Regions from separate parts of the Homo sapiens genome. Here region 1 is linked to region 2. Evidence: fine-mapped expression QTL. A gene starts in region 2. The other region holds a variant in brackets. All regions are shown on one strand. Distances are between the middles of the regions.

The links. PIP is the estimated chance that this variant, and not a neighbour inherited with it, causes the effect.
Region 1: its variant is fine-mapped to the expression of ASCC3 in whole blood (TOPMed, PIP above 0.99).

What each region holds. Positions count from the first base shown.
Region 1 is chr6:100,639,589-100,644,982 of GRCh38, reverse strand. ASCC3 (activating signal cointegrator 1 complex subunit 3) reads left to right here. Exons shown (of 42, transcript NM_006828.4): 23 at 854-952; 24 at 2,234-2,402. Among named protein-coding and RNA genes, the nearest start is that of SIM1, 180 kb to the right of the region's middle. The variant C/T (reference allele first, on the strand shown) is at 2,093.
Region 2 is chr6:100,878,515-100,883,908 of GRCh38, reverse strand. It overlaps ASCC3 (activating signal cointegrator 1 complex subunit 3), which reads left to right and starts at 2,580. Exons shown (of 42, transcript NM_006828.4): 1 at 2,580-2,848. It overlaps LOC107984041 (a long non-coding RNA gene), which reads right to left and starts at 2,452. Exons shown (of 8, transcript XR_007059692.1): 1 at 2,255-2,452. RefSeq lists an enhancer at 2,617-2,736.

The DNA of each region.
Region 1 (5,394 bases), 240 kb after region 2:
TAAGGATGGTTGAGTCTTCTGTTTAAAGATGTCATTCAAAGACCAGGAACTTTTCACCCATTTGCTCTGCTGACACTTTTGGGTACTTCTCAAATGTTTTCAGGATTTTTTGTTTGCATTAAACAGAGCATGGGAAACACATCCCCACTTCTCCAGCCCAGAACATGGACCATAGACCTTTTCTTCAGTCTAATTGGGCCAGTATTTGTCATGTGCCTCTGCCTTACCACAGCAGTTGGGAGGGGAATCCCATGAGCTGATTGACTTATGCCAATCAAAATTATCCCAGGGGATGTGGTCACTTTTTCTTGAGTCACATGAGGGAGAGATGCTTGCTGAACAAGACTGGGTTCTGCAAGGAAGAGCGAGACAGAGAGAGTAAGAGAGAGAGAAAGACATTGAAATGGATAAAGCAAAATACAGTATATCTATCCAATGGGATATTATTAGACAATAAAAAGGAATGAAAGCATTGATGCATGCTAAAACATAGATGAACTGTGAAACCATCATGGTAAATTAAAAACTCCAGTCACAAAAGACTGCATATTATATGATTTTATTTAATTGAAATTTACAGATTAGGCAAATCTGTAAGGAAAAGGTAGTGACTACTAATGGGTACAAGGTTTCTTTTTGAGGTGGTGAAAATGTTCTAAAATTAGATTATGGTGATGGTTGTACAACTTTGGAAATATATTAAAATCATTTAACTGTATACTTGAAATGTTTAAATGAGTAAACTTTGTAATATAAATGATATATCAATAAAGCTTCTAGAGTGAGAAGATTGGATGCTATCCCTTATTTGAGTTATGATATGCATAGTAGCAGGATGCTATTTTTCTTCTAGGTACATGGGACAGTAGGAGAACCTTGGTGGATTTGGGTAGAAGATCCTACAAATGATCATATTTATCATTCAGAGTATTTTCTAGCTCTAAAAAAACAAGTAAGTGTATATATGTGAATATATCCTTATTTGCTATTGTAAAAAAAATTATACTAACAGTTTCTGCTTTTATTTCTCTGTAATTTTATAGTACAATTAAAACTTTATTTTATGTTTTAGTTTCCTATTAGTTTTAAAAGAATACAGTGATTAAATGTTATAGTATTGGTATATTCAATGTGATCATGGTTTAAGAAATTCACTTACCAGTAATGCCCCACATAGTGACATTTCAGTGAACAAGGGACCACATACACAACAACAGTACAATAGTGGTCCCATAAGATTATAATACTGTATTTTCACCTACTTTTTCTAGGTTTAAATATGTGTAGATAGGTAAGTACCATTGTGTTATAATTGCCTAAAATATTCAATACAATAACATGCTGTATGGTAACATGCTGTATAAGAGCAGTAGGCTTTGCCATGTAACCTAGATATTTAGGAGGCTATACCATCTGGCTTGTCTACGTACACTATGATGTTCTTAAGACAAAATTACGTAATGACACATTTTTCAGAACCATTCCTGTCATTAAGCAATGCATGACTGGATAATCTTTACCATGGTTTAAGACCTGGGTTCCAGAGGTGTAGAATATGTAAAATAGGTAGGATCAATAATAATCTTAAGGGTCACATGCACAAAATACTGAATACTATTGGATTAAAAGAGCATTTCTTCTAAATTTCTTTATAAATCACAAGACAAAGACTCAATTTGATGGTATTTCTTTAACTGATGCTTCATTCGTAATTTCTGTTTTTATCAAAGATAAAGCAAGCTTCAGGTAAGAGTCTTGGGTAGGCAACAGTAGAATTTCATAGCAGCGTTTTGTATTCATTGCTTTTGTCTGCTTGGTTACCTTCTATTTGTACCAAGTGATTGCGGTATTCCATTTTAGGTACTGATAGAACTTAACAAAAAATATTAAGTAAACAATATGGTAATTCGGTAAGGTAAAAATCATGAAGTTATGTAATTGAATGAATGATGTTTGGGAAATTCAGGTAGTCAAATTGGTAACTTGTTAATACATGATTATATGCATATGTAAATAATATAAATTAGCCATAAAATTTTACCTTCTATCAGGTATCCTCAGAAGGGCACCATGCACAATTTTCTAAAGTTTC[C/T]GAATATCTCAGCTATTTACAAATTCAAGATACTTTGTCTTTAGTATATCTTGTAGAGATACCGTTATCTTAACAATAGACTAATAAGGCCTTTATGCTATTAGAATATCCATATTTATTTTTGACTGTATTTCATATTAGGTCATTAGTAAAGAAGCCCAACTACTGGTATTTACAATCCCTATTTTTGAGCCTTTGCCTTCCCAATACTACATCCGAGCAGTGTCTGATAGATGGTTGGGTGCTGAGGCAGTATGTATTATCAACTTTCAACATCTAATTCTACCAGAGAGACATCCTCCTCATACAGGTAACATGGTGAATGCTGATTTGAATCATTGATTTTTCCAAAATGGTTGTTTTAATTAATGTTGAAAAATGTCTACACCGTAATAAAGTTTTACTTGTAATCATTATAACTTCTCTATAACTCCCTTTTTATTTCATTTGTCATTCATCATTTAATCTGTTCTCTCTGTAAAACTTTTATTTTCTCCCTTGCGTTTATTCCAGTTTACTTAAACTTATTTCTAGTATGTTAAATTAACTAACATACCAGTGAGTTATGGGGAATTTCCCCCCATCTTTTGTGTTTCTACACCAAAAACAAAAAAGCTAATATTAAGGAATCATATTATGGTATCACTATGGAATGGATTTCCACATACCTCAAGTGAGTTTGTGTCCTGCAAATAACATCTACCCTTTATATTAGTTTTTTTTTTTTTTAATACTTTAACTTTTAGGGTACATGTGCACAATGTGCAGGTTTGTTACATATGTGTACATGTGCCATGTTGGCGTGCTGCACCTATTAACTCGTCATTTAACATTAGGTATATCACCTAATGCTATCCCTCCCCCCTCCCCCCACTCCGCAACAGGCCGCGGTGTGTGATGTTTCCCTTCCTGTGTCCATGTGTTCTCATTGTTGAATTCCCACCTATGAGTGAGAACACGTGGTGTTTGGTTTTTTGTCCTTGCGATAGTTTACTGAGAATGATGGTTTCCAGCTTCATCCATGTTCCTACAAAGGACATGCACTCATCCTTTCTATGGCTGCATAGTATTCCATGGTGTATATGTGCCACATTTTCTTAATGCAGTCTGTCATCGTTGGACATTTGGGTTGGTTCCAAGTCTTTGCTATTGTGAATAGTGCTGCAGTAAACATACATGTGCATGTGTCCTTATAGCAGCATGATTTATAATCCTTTGTGTATATACCCAGTAATGGGATGGCTGGGTCAAATGGTATTTCTAGTTCTAGATCCCTGAGGAATCGCCACACTGACTTCCACAATGGTTGAACTAGTTTACAGTCCCACCAACAGTGTAAAATAAAAAACCCCATCAACAAGTGGGCAAAGGATATGAACAGACACTTCTCAAAAGAAGACATTTATGCAGCCAACAGACACATGAAAAAATGTGCATCATCACTGGCCATCAGAGAAATGCCAATCAAAACCACAGTGAGATACCATCTCACACCAGTTAGAATGGCGATCATTAAAAAGTCAGGAAACAACAGGTGCTGGAGAGGATGTGGGGAAATAGGAACACTTTATATTAGTTTTATCCCTCTGCCCTAACATTATAAAGGGGTACGTGGTAATCTTCAACATCATACAATAGTGTTTTTCACTGTCATACCTTGCAAAAATCCATTTTAAATTTTGGTGACGTGAACAAATACCTTTTTATTTTGACTTAATATAGAAGCAGATTTTTCAGGAATAAATGTTTACAATGATACTTTTAAGTGCCCTATGAAATACTCTATTTCAAAAAATCCTAAACTAATCTGTTAATTAACTAGTATAATAAGTTTATTTCTTCTTTTTCAGAATTGATTTTAAGAGGGCCTTAATTTATAGAAAAATGAAAGTCCATATTTTTTCTCATATGGTTCTTCCAAAGAGAAACCCTTTGTCATTTTCAGAATAAAAATATAGTCCTCACTACTTTTAATGAACTCATTATTTGGCAGTCCTTTGGGAATTGAAAGAGGTCTTAATGTGACTTTAAACTTTGCCATTTTTGTCAAATGTGTACCCTATTCATTATCTTAGCTTATCTTAAAGAGAGATACTTTATACTTTGGCTTAATTCCACTTTGATATCTTGGCAGAACAGAACTAAAAGGCTTGTCAACATAGAAAAATAATGAGATTGTAGTATCTAGTGATCTACTCATTGAAGGGAATCTTTCCAGTCTTCTTTCATCAAGTGTGCTACATGTAATATTTAGAATCTCAGAATAAAATATATAAAAAATGTTTGGTGCTTTAATTTAAAATACATGCTTCAAACATCATTAATCTTTGAGTATAGCACTTGATCTTAACTTGCGTTAACATTCTATTTCAATGTTCATTTTATCTTTTGTCTGCCAAATGACCAAGAATGTATCACCCTATTTATATAATTAGCTGAGTTCTGACTACAATTTTAAAAACAATAAATGTACCACCATAACATCTCAGTTGATATTAGACATATACAAAGTAACCTCAATGATTCCAGGGTCTCTTTGAATATATAGTCATTATCATTGAGCCCAAATGAGCCAAGAAAAACCTTCATCTTTCACTAATGTAAAGCACTGTAATTTAACATCATCAGTAAATATGCAATATGCAGTTTATTTATTTATTTATTTTTTAGTCTTTTTAAGAACATATCTCGGCTTTGATTAGCATTACAAGCATTAACTTGCAATGCCTCCCCTCCTTCCTTCTCTATTATTTTTTATTCATTTTATTTTATTTGTGAGACAGAGTTTCACTCTTTCACCCAGGCTGAAGTGAAGTGGGATGATCTGGGCTCACTGCAACCACCACTCGCCGGGTTCAAGCGATTCTCCTGCCTCAGCCTCCCGAGTAGCTGGGATTACAGGCGCCCACCACCACGCCCAGTTAATTTTTGTATTTTTAGTAGAGATGGGGTTTTGCCATGTTGGCCAGGCTGTTCTCGAACTCCTGACCTCAGGTGATCCATCCGCTTCGGCCTCCCAAAGTGCTAGGATTACAGGCTTGAGCCACCGCTCCCGGCCTCAATTTTCAGTGCTTCAGAAAATTTAAGAAACCTACAGTCTGGTGTAGAAAGTATGTCGTTAGCCCTCAGTTACCTATGTAATTAACTGAATAGAGCAGTGGGGAAAGGATAATTTTTTAAATTAATTTTTTGACTTTTAAAGACATTTTTTAAGAAGAAAATTTGCCATACTTTCATTTTGAAACAGTACCATGAACATCTAACTCAAGGTACAGAATACTATGTTACCTTATGGATTATTT
Region 2 (5,394 bases):
TTATACTCAATTCTTTAAATTTAAAATTGAGTCTCCTTATAGACTAGTTTGTTTACATTTTAACTTTGTCACTACCTTCTATTAACAATGTTCCATTACAGATAAATAGGTTTTCATTATCTAGAATGCAGTTATAGTCTTGTTTCTTGTCTTTGCTCATGGCATACTTTCTGGACGGTCTTTCTCTTTGTCATCAGGGCCATTTTCATTAGGTTGTCTTTCCACTAACATTTGGGGAAGCTGGGCTTGATGGCAGGTACCTGTAGTCCTAGCTACTTGAGAGGATGAAGCAGAAGAATCATTGAGCCCAGGAGTTCACGGCTGTTGTGCACAATGATCATGCTTGTGAATACCCAGTGCACTTCTGCTTGCGCAATACAGCAAGACCCCATCTCTTGAAAAAAAAAATGGGGAAACCCTGGGGACTATAAAGAGGACAAAGATAGCTCTTAGAGTTCAATGAAGTAAGACCATCCCTCAGTGTCCACAGGGGATTGGTTCCAGGACACTCCCACATACCAAAACCCCAGGATGCTCAAGTCCTTACACACAATGGTATAGTATTTGCATACAAACTATGCACATTGTCCCATATACCTTAAACCATCTCTAGGTTACTTATAATACCTAATACAATGGGAAATGCTATGTAAACAGTTGTTACATCCATATTGTTAAGGAAATAATGACAAGAAAAAAAGAGTCTGTGCGTGTTCAATGCAGACATTACCATTCTTTTTTTTTTTTTTTTTCAATTGTTTTTGTTCCAAAGTTGGTTGACACATATACAGAAGCCATGGATACAGAGGGCTAACTGAATTTCCTTCCAGGCCAGGACTATGTAATACAAATATGATGCAAGCCACCTATGTAATTAAAAATTTTCTAGAAGTCACATAAAAAGTAAAAATAAAGTTGAAATTAATTTTAACATATTTTATTTGATCCATTATATATTATTTCAACATGTAATCGACATAAGAATTACAATATTTTACATTTGTTTTCTAAGTCTTTGAAATCTGGTGTACATTTTGGACTCATTGCATGTCTCAGTTTGGACAAGCCACATTTCAAATGTCAAGAGACGTATTTAACTGGTGGCTACCCCAATGGATAGGGCAGTTCTAGGTAGTCTATTTTCAGTTCCTCTCTTCTCCCTTAAGCCTCTGGAACTGTGATGGGAATAATCTGTCATGTGAATTCCTAGCACTTATCAGCACCTCTCATTATCACTTGGCCTCCTTGCATTATTTATTTTTGTGATGCATTTGTCTTGTCTCATGAACTAACTTGTAAACTCTATGAAGTCCAGGACCAAAGACACATGTAATCTCAAGACTGGAAATATCTTTAACAAAACCATCAACTAATTATTCTGTTGATGTGTGGCTCCCCTGTACCAAGTCCCTATTAAGTGAGCTTCAGAATCTCCTTGAAGCAAAATTCTGTGGTTGAGGTATTCACACATGCTAAGGTAGGCAATTCTTTGGGTCGTGCTACAAGGGCATCTTCTTTTCAGGATCTTAAATCTGTTCCCTGAAGTTTGCATCACATGAAACAAATCAACTTCACATGATAGGTCATTTCATATTTGGAGAGAGTCCAGTAGTTTTCTCTCTTCTAGGTGAGTCCTGGAAGGTTTAATCAATCCTTCTTCACTTGCCCTGTTTTTGAGTTCTCGTCATCATTTTGCTCTTCCCTGATATAATGCCAGCTTGATTAAAGTCTTCAAATGCTGAACACAGCACTTCAGAGGTGGTCTGACCAGTAAAGACAATAACTGGATCACTATTGGCTGCCTCTACAAAACAGTTCTACCAGGCATCGGGGCACATTACCTTGAGGAAGCGGGAATGGCAGAAGAGAGCCACAACAAACATATTAACTCATACTATCTTTGCATTGTTGGCTTTTAGTCTAGAACTCTTTGCAGATAAACCACACAATTCTTTAGGTTAGTTTTTCTTCGTATCTTCCTATCTTTTCAATCGAGTTAGGGAATCTTTGGGCTTTCTGTTTTTGGAGGAGGTCTTCTGACCGAAGAGCCGACTTGCAGAGATCACTTTGAGGGAACTAAGCTGAGAATCCAGAAAGCTTATGGAAAACAGGCCTTGACACCAGAGAACCATGTATACTCTCTAGCAGCCAGAGGGCTTTGGCTGAAAACGACGATAGCAACTACCTGTTTCTTCATTCAAATTGCTCTCCTTTCCTTTACCTTTAATAGGAATTATTTCCTCCACATATTTACCTTACAGAGAAGGGCGGGGAGAAGACGCGGCAGACTGAAGTAAATGCAGGGAAAAAACTCACAGGTAGAGAGGTAGAGACGGCAGGCCTGGCCCGTTGCGGGCAGCCAGGGTAAAGTGGAGCGTCCCGCTCCCGCCCTGGGGCGCATCCTCGCCGCCGCCGGGACCTTCCGCCTCTGCTCCTCCGAACCCAGCGGACTAGAGGCTGGAGGCGGGAGGCGGAGCGGCGCGCGCACGCGGGCGGGGCAGAGGGCCCGGAGTCGACGAGTCGACGTGCCGACGTTGGCGCTGCAGCGGGGCGGTGACGTGTAGGCCGGCGCCAGCTCCACTCTGTCCCTCCTCGCCGGGTCTGTGCGTCTTTGCGTCTGTCTGTCTGACTGATGGTCCTCACACGCGGTTCCCTGTGACTGGGCGCGACCCCGGCAAGCGCGGCTTGGAGGGCGGACGGGGCGCGGCGATACAGCTGCCCGCTCGCATCTTTGGCCCTGCGCTCAGCTCCTCACCCGGCGTGGGAAGTTAAAGTAAAACCGAAAGGGAAGAAGGCGCGGTGGCAGGAGCTGACAGAGTGATGGGAAACGCGTGAGCCAGGCCGAGAGGTGAGGAGGTGGAGGTGGAGGTGGGAGGACGAGAAGGGTCGCCGCGGCCAGGGGAGCTGGCTGGAGGCGGGGACGGCGAGGCGGGCTACGCGACCCGCCAGAGATTCTCTTCCTGCCTCCGGGGCAAGTCCCGACCTGTCATCCTTTTCAGTGGCATGAGGTCGAGTCCGGGGTCTCGCAACAATACCGCCCATTCCTAGAGTTTGTAGGTGGGGTTGGGGATAGAAAACTTAACCTAAGCTACATATTGTCCAAGTGTTAAGCCACAACGTGACCAGATGAGGTTTTTCTGTCCCATGCATGGGTAATTTGTTTTCTTTTTTTCTGTTACAAAGCCTTGATAACTTCGTTTTCTTCACGTAGATTTGGGGAAAGAAATCTTCCTCATATTTTTCCCCCAACACACTGGAAAGTAAATAGGTAGCTGACCGTGATGGATTGTGGGTGAATTTCGCAATCAAGGAGCCTATAATGTCATTTTGAAATAAATAAATGTGTATGTGGGTGCTAGGGAGGTTTTGTGAGTACTGGGCAGTCATTTCAAATAGGTTTCTTATAAATTAACTTACTCATGGAATGCAGTGTGCTAATGGTATTTGCTATTCTTTGGTTTAAAAGAAGCATAATTCTAGGGGCTGGTAAAAGTTTGATGTGTTGTCACTTGTGCATTCAAACTCATGGTTACATTTTCTTTCTTTCCCTAGGTTAGGTGAGATTGACAGCCATTTTCTCCATCACCAGATTTTATGTTTCATAGATTGAAATCCTTTTTCTGATTCTCAAAGTTCTCAAATGTTGAGAATTAAGCTTTTGGTTTTACTATGGATTGTGCTCCAGTTTATGTTGTCTCTTTTTTTTAATGATGGTTATAATAGTCTTGCATGAGAAAAATGATCCTTAAAGATGCTCTTAAGCTTAGGCTAAATAATCCTATTTATATGAGAAATTAATTTTTCATGGTTCAGCTTTCTTGATCCCTGCTTAACAGTTTTTTGTCATTCATTCATTCAAGTCTTCCTATGTGTCAAACGCTGGGCTAGGCCTAGGAGAGCAAGAGAGAGACAGTCTCTGTGCTCATGAACTTTCTATAATCCAGCAGCCTCCTTTTAAGACAGAATCTTGACTAGGGTTCTTTCTCATGCCATGGATCTGTAGTTAACCAAAACAAAGCTTTTAAAAGAAAAAGTTATTGTCAATGTATATATGTAATTGGCATTGAAAGGGGAACAGATGATCTTGCTTTAACAGCATGATTTGATATTGCCTTTGATCAAAAAGTAGTATATGTACCAGTGGTTTGCCATTTCAGAAGAGTAAGTTTTTCTTTTTCAAAGCTTGTTTAAATATAAAGTTCACAGTTCTACCTCAGTTTCTACCTCAAAAAAAATAAATAAATAAAAAGCTTTTTCTTTTGAGGTAGAAATCAGTTTCTTTCCAGTCTTCACTTTGGTCTGATTGATCTCCTGTGTATCTCTGGAACCCCTAGGCTCAAGCAGTCCTCCTGCATCGGCCTCCCAAAGTGCTGGGATTACGGGCCCCATTTTGCCTTTTTGTATGCTAATGAATTGACTAAGAATTTTGTCTTAGCTAGCTGGCTGCTCCTAGTAGCTTCAGGATGGGGGCTGGTTACCAGAAAGGTCAAGGAATTATTAGAAGGTTGGGACTTTCATCCCCACCCCCTAACTGCTTAGGGAGGTGAGAGAGGGGCTGAAGATTAAGTTGATCACCAGTGGCCAAAGGGTTTAATCAATTATGCCTATGTAGTGAAGCCTCCATAAAAACTCAAAATGACAGGGTTCATAAAGCTTCTGAAAGCTGAACATGTGGAGATTCCTTGAGGTGGTGTGCCCAGGAAGTACTTGGAAGTTCTGCATGGAAATTCCCTTCCCTTATAAATTACCCTATCCTATGTATCTGTTCATCTGTATCCTTTGTAATATCCTTTATAATAAATTGGTAAACGTGTTTCCCTGAGTTCTGTGAACCACTCTAGCAAATTAACCGAACCCAAGGAGGGGGGTCATGTAATCCCCAATTTATAGCTGGTCAGTCAGAAGTACAGATAAAAAAGCCTGGAGCTTGTAATTGGCATCAGAAGTGGTGGGCAGTCTTGTGGGATTGGGCCTTCAATCTGTGGGATATGACAGTATCTCTAGATAGTGTCAGAAATGAATTGGAGAACACTCATCTGATGTCTGCTGCAGAAGTGATTGTTTGCTTGGTGCATGGGGAGAAACTCATACACATTTTGTCACAGACATCTTCTGTGTTGATGGTTGTCGTGTGAGAGCAGAGGAAAAACGGTTTGAGTTTTTTCCACTCTCACAAGAGGGCAGGCGTAAATTCCTTCAGTCTGCCTCCCAGAGGCTCATGGATTAGGGTGGAATGAGAATTTTGTCTTTCAGACATAATCTGTGCTAGGCCCTTTTCCACTGGACTTTCGTGGGAAGAGTTATAATACATACTGCCTAATATGTGCTGGGTCTGTTCCACGTTTTCTTGTGCTCGTTTCATCTTTGTGGGATATTCTGGAATTTTCTTTCTGA